Linked DNA regions of Homo sapiens. The protein of the gene in region 3 purifies or fractionates together with the protein of the main gene of each other region. This does not show direct contact. Each region holds a gene or a part of one and is shown on either strand. Other genes may lie near its edges.

What was found.
Region 1: the proteins of DOK4 (region 3) and AHCYL1 purify together in Homo sapiens (affinity purification with mass spectrometry; 3 studies listed by BioGRID and IntAct, with this or other methods). This does not show direct contact.
Region 2: the proteins of DOK4 (region 3) and MIER1 purify together in Homo sapiens (affinity purification with mass spectrometry; 2 studies listed by BioGRID and IntAct, with this or other methods). This does not show direct contact.

The regions. Positions count from the first base shown.
Region 1 is NC_000001.11:110,008,765-110,012,416, forward strand, and holds part of AHCYL1 (S-adenosylhomocysteine hydrolase-like protein 1), read left to right. Parts: intron 1-269; coding exon 270-381; intron 382-2,449; coding exon 2,450-2,593; intron 2,594-3,597; coding exon 3,598-3,652. UniProt on the Homo sapiens protein: Multifaceted cellular regulator which coordinates several essential cellular functions including regulation of epithelial HCO3(-) and fluid secretion, mRNA processing and DNA replication.
Region 2 is NC_000001.11:66,959,484-66,963,135, reverse strand, and holds part of MIER1 (mesoderm induction early response protein 1), read right to left. Parts: intron 3,458-3,652; coding exon 3,393-3,457; intron 49-3,392; coding exon 1-48. UniProt on the Homo sapiens protein: Transcriptional repressor regulating the expression of a number of genes including SP1 target genes. Probably functions through recruitment of HDAC1 a histone deacetylase involved in chromatin silencing.
Region 3 is NC_000016.10:57,479,994-57,483,645, reverse strand, and holds part of DOK4 (docking protein 4), read left to right. Parts: intron 1-3,256; exon of another isoform or gene 3,257-3,351; intron 3,352-3,652. UniProt on the Homo sapiens protein: DOK proteins are enzymatically inert adaptor or scaffolding proteins. They provide a docking platform for the assembly of multimolecular signaling complexes.

The DNA.
Region 1 (3,652 bases), on a different chromosome or scaffold from region 3:
ATTGAACATATACTAAACGAAATTGGTTCTTAACCTTAGCCCCTCCTCCCAAATCCTGCAGAAACAATTGGGAAGAGACAGTGATTGACGTGTTGGGAGAAGTCAGAGAGTAGCCTCGGCCTTCCCCCATTTCTGGTGGGAAAGTTGCTGGCTTAGTAGGAACCATGTGATTACATGGCTTTTAGGGAAAGACAATGTATCCTTAAAAAAAAAAACATTTCATGGATTTTCCTTATAAGTTTTCAACTTTTTGTCTTCCTTTTGTATAGCAAATCCAGTTTGCTGATGACATGCAGGAGTTCACCAAATTCCCCACCAAAACTGGCCGAAGATCTTTGTCTCGCTCGATCTCACAGTCCTCCACTGACAGCTACAGTTCAGGTAGGTGTGAATGAACTCCATGTCCTCTCTAATCTCTCTTCCCTGTTTGCTACCAGTGCTCTTCACTTAGCAATCTGAAAATACCTCATGTTATGACTGCCCACCTTTGTGCTGAAAACTGTTAGTGGCTGGGCAGTGGGAATGTTCTGCAGCCAAGCTAGTAGCTGGGGAAGCTTTTGTCGACTCGAGACTTTCTTCCCCCTGGCTGTCTGTGTGTGTGGTCTGTGGCCAGTGCCCAGTTGGTAGGACTGGGCTAGTTCCCATTCCCACATTGATCCGCCCATTTCAAAAGGAAGAAATCAATGCTATTTTGGCTGACAGAATTGGACTTAAAAAAGAAGTGCATTTTGAAGCACGATTTCTTTGTGTAAAATATACCCTGTCACCTATCTCTTTCTTTCTTGTCTCCAAGACTGCTTAGATTGTAACAATAAAATTAGTATTTTGGCTTCTCTTATTTATTAGGTTATTCTTTCTGTTGGAATATCCTCCCCTGTTAGACTCTGGAGCAGGAAAGATTCAGACTACTGTAATGTAACTCCAGCTCTGTTTCTTTTTAGTTCTCTCCTCCTGTCTTAACTCTCTGTAAATAAAGTCTTTTTCTGTTTTGTATTGTGTCTTTCCCAACTATAGAGCATGTATTAGAAAATTAGCATGGAAAAGAATATAGAATCTTGGCAGATGAATACAGGAGAAAACATTAGGGACATCTAATGGGGCATCCAATACAACCTTGTCATTGTTTAACTGAAGACTCATTGTTAAAAGATTAAGAGGTTACAGATTGCTATTAATGTCAGCAGAGATATTTGTACCAAAAGCCATTCATTGTCCTTTGCCAGAATACCTTTTGCATTGTATTATCAACATTAAGGATTAACATAAATGAAAAGCTGTTATATATGATCCTGGAGTGACAGATAAAAAGTGGTGTGTGACAAGCAGGCTAACTGTAGCCAAGAAAGAAGAAAAATTAATTGTGAAAAATTGAGTTATGAGAGGAAGAACGATAAAACGACTGAAGAAGGCTTTTAAAAAGTCTTCAAAGATCTTGACGGCCATGTTACAGAAATGTATTAGAGCCTTTTAAAAAGCTTAGTGATATGGTTAAAATGTCATAGTGGGGAAGATAATCTTTAGTAGTATTTGTGTTAGCTGGACAGGAGGAGGACCTGTACATAGAAGTCAGTCAGTGAGAGAGTCCAGGTATACTAGCAGAAACCGTGATGAGGAAAGTACTCAATTCAGAGAGGAAAGAAGTGATTTGAGAGGTAAGGAATGATTGTTGTATATCCTCTTGCATATCTGTCAGATAAGTGGTATTTTTAGCTTTTATGTGAAACCACTTTTTAAAGTTGATCATTTTGACAGACTTTCCCAGGGCTATCAGTAGAACCAGAGCTGTTTGCCTTTTGTGCCATTTCTTTCTTTCTCTATTCCTTGAGCACAACTTAGTGTAAAATCCCTTGTAAGACTATCTTATCACTTTTGTCTATATCCATGGTTCTCAAAGTGTGATCCTCTGACTAGCAGCATCAGCAACACCTGGTAACTTGTTGGAACTACTAATGCTTAGGTGCCACTCCATACCTGCCAGATGGGAAACTGGCCACAGGGTCTAGCAATATATGTTTTAACAAACCTTCCATGTGATCCTGATAGATGCTTGAATTTGAGAACCAGTGATCTATAGAAATAGCATTCCTTATCTGCCCTAAATTATTCTTCTGTTTTTGCCAGGTCTGGTTCCAATCCAGATGGGACCAAGTACCTCTATTATCTGGGATTACTATAGCTGCAGGTTTATAATCAGTGGTCCCTTGTCATAGGCACTAATAGCACAGTATTGTTAGGGTGGGTGAAAGAGCTGCAACATGGAAGTACCCACAACAGTTTCATTCATACCACCTATTAGAACCTAGAGGAGCAGAACTGAGAGCGTTGTAAAAGGTAGCTCCAATTAAGGGTGTTCCCTTAACTTAAATGAAAGTCCCTTGGGGACTGCACTCTGTAGAGTTGGGGACCACTGAGGTTTTTCTATCCTTGTTTTTTTCTTTCCTGGCTCTAGCTGCATCCTACACAGATAGCTCTGATGATGAGGTTTCTCCCCGAGAGAAGCAGCAAACCAACTCCAAGGGCAGCAGCAATTTCTGTGTGAAGAACATCAAGCAGGCAGAATTTGGACGCCGGGAGATTGAGATTGCAGAGCAAGGTAAAGAAAGGGAGTGGGTTAGGGGACCAGAAACAACCCTCTTGTTGGCCATCAGAATCCACAAACAACTTAAGACTTGAAAGCTGACTTGAAAGTGTACTGGGAAGAAAGACAGTATTATGGACTTTCGGATAAACACTTCTCTCTCTATGGAACTTAAGTCTTGGGATTTTGTTCTCTCTTCCTTCTGTTCTCAGCATGTGGTGATTACACACAGAGTAGTTTCTGTTTTCCTCCTTGCCCCACCCCACCACTGTATTCAAAGATCTACATGGCAGAATTGACAAGTCCTAGATCACTACGTGGTAGTTGGTTATATGGGATCTTACTATAGCTGCCAATGGCAGAGACCCAGATTGCCCAGAAGCAGCTGATGAGGAAGGGTTTTAAGGTAAGGATGTGGTGACCTAGAGTCTTGTTTGGTCCTGAGCACCCTCTGCTGGAGCAGAGTAAAAGTGACTGACAGTTAAATCTTGGTTTCTCTACCCCAGCCACTCCCAGTAAGGTCCTCTTTACTCTTGTGTTGTTTACACATTGAAGGCATGTTCTATACTGAGAGAGAATAGAGAAACCAAACAGACTGACAGGACATGGTAAGACAGCATAGAAAAACAGAAGTTAGTGGTTTCGGCTGAGGGTACAGTCTTTCTGGTCTGATGATTATATATAGGAATCTATTAGCCAATGCCTTAACTATTTTCCTCTCTTCCCAAATGAATGATGAGACTCACCCTTCATTTTGATCAGTTTTAAGGATTTACTTCATTCTCTGTTCAGTCCTCTGTGTATAAAGCTGAAGCAGTAGAGGAAGAGAGAAACTCCAAGTGGTTGCATGACTGCTCTCCACTATTACTGTGCCGTTGAAGCTGCCAGTCGTCATGGAAATAGGCTTAAAGTTTTTCTGCCTCATCTCACCATATCTCAACAGATCCAGACCAGCCCTGGGGCAGGAACTGATGATACTGCTAGTGCAGACCTAGCTCAAATCCTCTGTTCTTTCACAGACATGTCTGCTCTGATTTCACTCAGGAAACGTGCTCAGGGGGAGAAGCCCTTGGC
Region 2 (3,652 bases), on a different chromosome or scaffold from region 3:
AATGCCAACTGGAATTTCTGCTTGAAACATGGAGCCCACCATAATCTCCTATTTTAAAAATAACATAAAACATTAGTAAGATCTAGTAACAGATTTTATATCCATTTTCTAGCCTTACCATCTTAGTAAACTGTTCCTGGTTTCTCTGTCATAAAATACAAAAACAACCAATTAACTACCTCAGAGGTACCTTTGTGAAGATGAATGACAAATAATGACTGGATGAAAATATTAGTAATAATACTGAGGTGAAATGCAACGTAAACAATAAATACAAACTTTATTTCAAAATATAGAGACAAAGAAGTGAATTCTGATAATTCCATTAGTAAGACAACTGCAAAACATGTAAAACACAAAGTCAAATTCAGATATTTTCAGAGTATCTACACTTAAGACAGTGGTCTTAAATATGATCCCTATATGAGCAGCATCAGTGTCATCTATGAAATTTTTGTTTTTTTGAGACAGGGTCTTGCTCTGTCACCTAGGCTGGAGTGATCATGGCTCACTGCAGCCTCGACCTCCCAGGCTCAAGCAATTCTCTCACCTCAGTCTCTGAGTAGCTGGGACTACAGGCACATGCCACCACACACAGCTAATGGGAAACTGTTAGAAATGCAAATGCTCAGGTCCCACCCCAAACCTACTGAAACTCTGGGGACAGGACTCAGTCATTGGTATTTTAACAAGCTCTCTAGGTGATTCTGACATAGACTGAAGTCTGAAAAACAGAGCTTCAAAGTAGGAAAAATAACAAAAAGGGTTTGTATAAAGCTCAGTAGGGGCCAAATGAAAGAAACTCTAAATGAAATAGATAAGCAGGTTATGGCTTGACTTTCATTAAAACAATACAAAATGAAAAAGTAACCTCCTCCCACAAATATAATTAAATAGGAAATCCAGTAATCATATCTATACAGTCAAATCACAGATTAGGTGAAACTGGATGTTCTCAAAAGCAACTGCAAACTACCACTGGTGAAATTTCACAATGCAAGGAGACCAAGATTACATGAACCCTCTTTTGTGTGATGGCTAAATGTTAAGAACACATTTACTGACATTTTCAAAATTGGGCATGAAAGGTACAAAATCATGGTCTAGAAGTTTTGGTAACTCTTAGGATTTGGAAAGTCTCTCTCCTGCTATTGTTACCTCACTGATGTGAGGAGCTCATTTTATCCAGTACAACTTCAAAGACGTGCTTTATGTAATAAAGTTATTTCTATACCCATAAGAAAAACCAATCTTTCTCATGATCAGTTTTCTAAAAAGAATCAAACTTACAACAAATTTTCTCTACCCTTACAATGGAATTCTCTTTATGTCTTCTACTATAAAAAGAGTCCTTTATTGTCACATCTTGTGCCTCTTTTAACTTAACTCACCTAGGCCTACCAAAGAACATTGTCAAGTTACTAACCCTGGCTGGGGTGCTTCTAAACCATCAATGCCTGGATCCACTGCAGGACAATTAAATTAGAATCTATGAATGAAGGCCCTGGTAGTCAGTACATCTAAGTTATCCAAATGATTCTAACATAAAAACAGGGTTGAGAACATCTGGATTAGTTTAAAGATAGGTACTTCCTTTTTCCTGTTCAGTTCTGAACATTTCTTTTCATCTGTTAATTTGTTCGGTAGTACAGGGAAGGGAAGGGAAATAGCTTTGAAGATCATTATGTGTTAACATATCATATATGCAATTTTCCTTTAATCTTTCAGCAAGCCCCATAAGGCTGACATTGTTATTCCCATACTATATGTAAGAAGATGAAGCTCAAAAATTTGATTTTCTCAGGAGCACACAATTACTAAGTTCTAGAGCTACAACTAAAATTCAGGTTTGACTTCAAAACTGTTTCCCCTACCTTAAGTTTCTATAAAAACTCAATTTCATCTTATAAGTCTTAAAAAAAAATGAATCTCTGAACCTTGACAATTATTTAAAACAACAAAATCATACTGAAAGAAAACAATCTGCATTTACTCTGGCCTGCTTTATTACATAATTTTTTTCTGAGAAAGGTGTGGTTAATTAATACCCTTTCTGAGTAAGGTGTGGGTAATTAATACCCTCCAGCAATGAGAGGTGTTCTACCTCTGAGCTTTTGTTCTTTCATTTAAAAAAAAAACACTGAATGCTTAATCAAATACTCTACTGAACACTCCAGATTAAAAAACAACACATGTTGAAGATACATAAACTTGAATATGAAGTGGGACAGCAATTTATAAGGACTCCCAAGGTTTCTAGCTTTTTTCATCTTAATTTCTGCACACTGTAGGAATCAGATTAAAAACAGGATGAAAGAACCCTTGCCCAAATAGGCCACACAAATTAACTTTTGTGATTCTTGTTTTCTGTCGAGTCCCATCATTTGCTCAAATTAACACATACCGTAAACTGGGCTAACCTTGTCTCTCAACAAAAATAACATTATTTCTTTGTTTTAACCAGTTCTACATAAAAAATTTTTTTGAAGACATGGGGTCTCACTATGTTGCCCAGCCTGGTCTCAAACTCCTGGGCTGAAGTGATTCTCCCTACCTCAGCCTCCCAAGTAGCTGGGACAACAGGGGAAACATCACTGCAACCAGCTAATTCTACATAATGTTTAGATAGATTTTTCCTAAGAGCTCAGTTCTTTTACAATAACTTACAATTCTTTAACTTAACTGTATGATTAATTATATGCTATATAATTTTATAATTAAAAACTAATCTCAATATATTATCTTTAGATTCATTTCAGAAATTAATTGTATATAGTTACGAAGAAGCCAAATCTGTTTCTTCATATAATAAGCTTATCAGTTGTAAATGTCAACATTAAATTCAATCATTTGGAGAGTTTTTCTTTTATAAAGTAATACAGAATGAAAAACTTGCAATATGAACTACTAAACAAAATTTACTTAACAAATATCAAAGCCTCCACAAATGCTTTCCATAATATTGAAAAACATATACGTGATACTTTTTACAGGGCAACAAATGCCTAATTTGGCACTAGTTCAGGACTAAATCAGAAATGTGGATTTCTGTTTTATTTATTTTTTGTTTTGTTTTATAAAATGAGACAGGGTCCCGCAACGCTGCCCAGGCTGGTCTCGAACTCCTGGGCTCAAGCGATCCGCCTGCCTCAGCCTCCCAAGTGCTGGGATAACAGGCGTGAGCCACCACACCCCGCCAGAAATGTAGATTTCTAATCTAACCTAGATGTGTTAAGAAGGAATCTGAACATTTACCAAACATTTAAATGTCATAAAAGGGCTTACATCGATTTTATCAATATACATAGTTAGTAAAAAAAAAAATAATTACACGAGGCTTTTTAAAAAAATATTAATTTATCTAAATTTTGGGAAAATATTGTTCTAACTACCTTTTTCCAGTCTTCTGATGGAATATAATCTTCATCTTCTTCAGATTCTTCTTCTACTTCACTATCTAGAATAAATAAGACACCAATACTATAAAATGACTGCTTATCCTGTCTAAATCTACATATTATTTTTACATCTACCATCAAATATTTGGATATGCTCAAAGATATCTAATGAATTAAGCCAAGATATTTCTAACCAAATAATTAACACCCTATCACTTAAAAAAACAAAACCAAAAAAACCATAAACTTTCTAC
Region 3 (3,652 bases):
TTTTTTTGAAATTTTTTAGAAACAGTCTCACTCTATCACCCAGGCTGGAGTGCAGTGGCTTGATCATAGCTCACTGCTACCTGGAATTCCTGAGCTCAAGTGATCCTCCCACCTCGGCCTCCCCAGTAGCTGTGACTACAGGCACGTGCCACATGCCCAGCTTATTTTTTCATTTTTTGTAGAGACGGGGTCTCTCTATGTTGCCGGATCTGGTCTTGAACTCCTGGCCCCAAGTGATCCTCCCACTTTGGCCTCCCAAAGTGTTGGGATTACAGGTGTGAGCCACTGTGCCTGGTCTGCTCTCCACTTCTTGCTGTCCTATTGGGCCTTCACAGGCTCAGCTTGGGGGCCGCCTCGCTTGCTTAACACAGTGCATTCCTTCTGGAGGATGGTGGGTTGGTTCTGGGCCCCCCCCTCACCACTTGACCCCACTGCCTGTCAAATTTGTGGGTCCACCTATTGGCCCTGACCTTTCCCTCCCCTTCCGAACCCCTCTTTGCCCACCATTTTGGGTCCTAGGTTAGGTCTTGCTCTTGCAAACATCATTAGGGACTAAGTGTGGCCAGGGGTCCCTGTGACTCAGGGCCGGAGTGAGCTGGCAGGACTTTGGCACCCAGCCTTCCCCGTGAAGGTCACTCTTCCCGCTGGGGACCTGGGGTATGGGACGGGGTGGGGCCTATGGACAGACGCAGCAGGAGCACTCCTGCGAGCTTGGGGCCACAGTCCCTGGTGGGGCAACACTGGGAAGGAGCAGGCTGGCTTCTGGTGGTTTCACCGCCCTGTCTGGGCAGCAACTCTTGAAGAAAACTATATATATATACATACACACAGCCCTTGGAGTTTTCAAGGCAGAAGCTCTGGCCAGGCGCAGTTGCTCACACCTGTAATCTCAGCACTCAGGGAGGCCGAGCCTTGTGGATCACTTGACCCCAGGAGTTCAAGACCAGCCTGGGCAACATGGTGAAAACCCATCTCTAGGGGCCGGGCGCAGTGGCTCACGCCTGTAATCCCAGAACGTTGGAAGGCCGAGGCGGGTGGATCACAAGGTCAGGAGATCGAGACCATCCTGGCTAACACGGTGAAACCCCGTCTTTACTAAAAATATGAAACAATTAGCCGGGTATGGTGGTGGGCTCCTGTAGTCCCAGCTACTCGGGAGGCTGAGGAAGGAGAATGGCGTGAACCCGGGAGGCGGAGCTTGCAATGAGCCGAGATTGGGCCACTGCACTCCAGCCTGGGCAATAGAGTGAGACTCCGTCTCAAAAAAAAAAAAAAAAAAAAACAAAAGCCCCATCTCTACAAACAAGTTTTTAAAAATTAGCTGGGCATGGTGGTATGTACCTGCGGTCCCAGCTATTCAGGAGGCTGAGGTGGGTGGATCACTTGAGCCTGGGTGGTTGAGGCTGCCGTAAGCCGTGATGGCACCCCTGCACTCCAGCCTGGGTGACAGAGCAGGACACTGTCTCAAAAGAAGAAAAAGAAGGCCGGGCGCAGTGGCTCACGCCTGTAATCCCAGCACTTTGGGAGGCCGAGGCGGGCGGATCATGAGGTCAGGAGATCGAGACCATCCTGGCTAACACGGTGAAACCCCGTCTCTACTAAAAATACCGAAAATTAGCCGAGCATGGTGGTGGGAGCCTGTAGTTCCAGCTACTCGGGAAGCCGAGGCAGGAGAATGGCGTGAACCCAGGAGGCAGAGGTTGCAGTGAGCCGAGATCGCGCCGCTGCACTCCAGCCTGGGCGACAGAGGGAGACTCCGTCTCAAAAAAGAAAAAGAAAAAGAAAAAGGGTAGAAGCTCTGTGTCCCAAGTGGGCAAGCAGGTGCCTCATGAATTCATTTCCTCATTTAAAGTAGGTAGATTTATTCTCATTTTTTTCCAATGGGGAAATTAAGGCACAGGGTCTTAAGCGGCTTGCCCAGGACCACACAGCCAGCTGGATTCACACTCCGGGCTGTGCTATGTCTGAGCTATGTTGGATGAACCTGGGGGTCCAGTGGCTTCCTGTAGGCGTGTTCTGACTGGGGGCTTCCACACTGTAGACCCACAGCCAGTGGTCAGCCTGCTAATCATCTTGGAGAGGAACTCCTGAGCTGGTCCTTGCTCTGAGGAGAAGGCAGCCCCAGAGGCAGGCGGTGAAGACAGAGCTGAGAAAATTGACCCATCTCTGGCTGCCAGAGCCCAGGTGTAGCAGAGCTGTTGGGGATCAGTTGCCAGTGAGGGGACCCCAGACCAGACCTTATAGGAGGAATGTAGACTGCCTAACTGTGGGAGGTTCTTGGACCCCAGGGAGCTGGGATAGAGGCAGTGAATGGGCAGGAGTGGAATTGAGGGGCTATCAGGGTGCAAGTGGGATAGGGGCGCATTACCGTCTCTGCCCCTCCCTTGTTTGCGTGTGCCCACTGGGGTAGTCCCATCTGTGCGTGTGCCCACTGGGGTAGTCCCATCTGTTCCTTGTTAGGCACTCAACAGACAGGCCTCCAGGACATTAATTAATGCCAAGCTGCTGGCACAACCAGCAGCATGCCTGTCCCAGGGCCCCGTTCTGGCAGCACAGATACCCAGCTGACCCCAGAAATGCTGCTCCGTTCCCACCCGCTGATCCTGAAGACACAGGGGCCACATTGCTGGCATAACCCTGCCCCCGAGGATGGATGGCAGGGAAGGCTTAGGTGGTGGCAGGCAGCCAGAGACGGCAGCAGGATGTTCCCCCCACAGACTGGTCTCCATCACCACCCTGGACCTTCTCCTTCATCCCTGGCTCTGCCCCAGGCCTGCTGTGTGACCTTAGTCATGTAGCTTACCCTCTCTGGGCAACTTTTCTTTCTCCATCTATAAAATGAAGGGGTTAGACTGGGTCAACACTGAGCCTCCCCCTGAGTCTGAGTCTTTGTTGTCTGTAGATCTGCCTGATTTGGGGTGGCTCTGCTGGTACTCCCACTTCCTGCTCCATATCTACCTCCCCTTGGTATCCCACATTGTCTCCTGCATGTCTTGTTGCCCCAGGGCCCTGACTGGTACTCCTATAATTAACTCCTGCCCATGCTCAGGACATGGAGGGCCTGCTTGGCTTGGCCAGACCCAGTGGCCTGTTGGGGCCCGGGCCCCACCCTCACGGACTGGCCAGCGTTCCCAACCCCAGGGCCAGGGCAAGGCGTCTGCTCCCACAGTGGCTACCTCCAGCCGGCCCAGCACATTCCTCAGGCTTATCTGGAGGCCCGCCCCACTGGACTCTGCCCTCCCACCCAGGAAGCAGCACCCAGAGCTGCGTGCGGAAGAGTTGCAGGGCCTGGGAACAGGCCCTGCGTGAGCTCGAGGTAGTGATTCTTAGCCTGGGGCTGGAGAGAAACAGGTAGAGGACCGGGTGGGGCAGGAGGGTAGAGGGGTTTGTGGGGGCTGCTGAGCTGACCAGGCAAATTGTCTTTAACATTGCAGAGCATGGGGTTCACTCAGACACGCAGGGGTCATCTCCTGCGACCCTCCTCCTCCATCTCTGGGAAGCGCTTCCCTGCTACCCCTGGGAGCTCTTGTACCCAGGAAGGGGCTTTTGCTCTTGGCAAGTTGACCTAAATTTGCACCAGAGTTATCACAGTTGATGGGGCCACGATCCCAAAGTGCTGAGGGACAGCAGCTCCCTGCCACTTCCCTTCCTG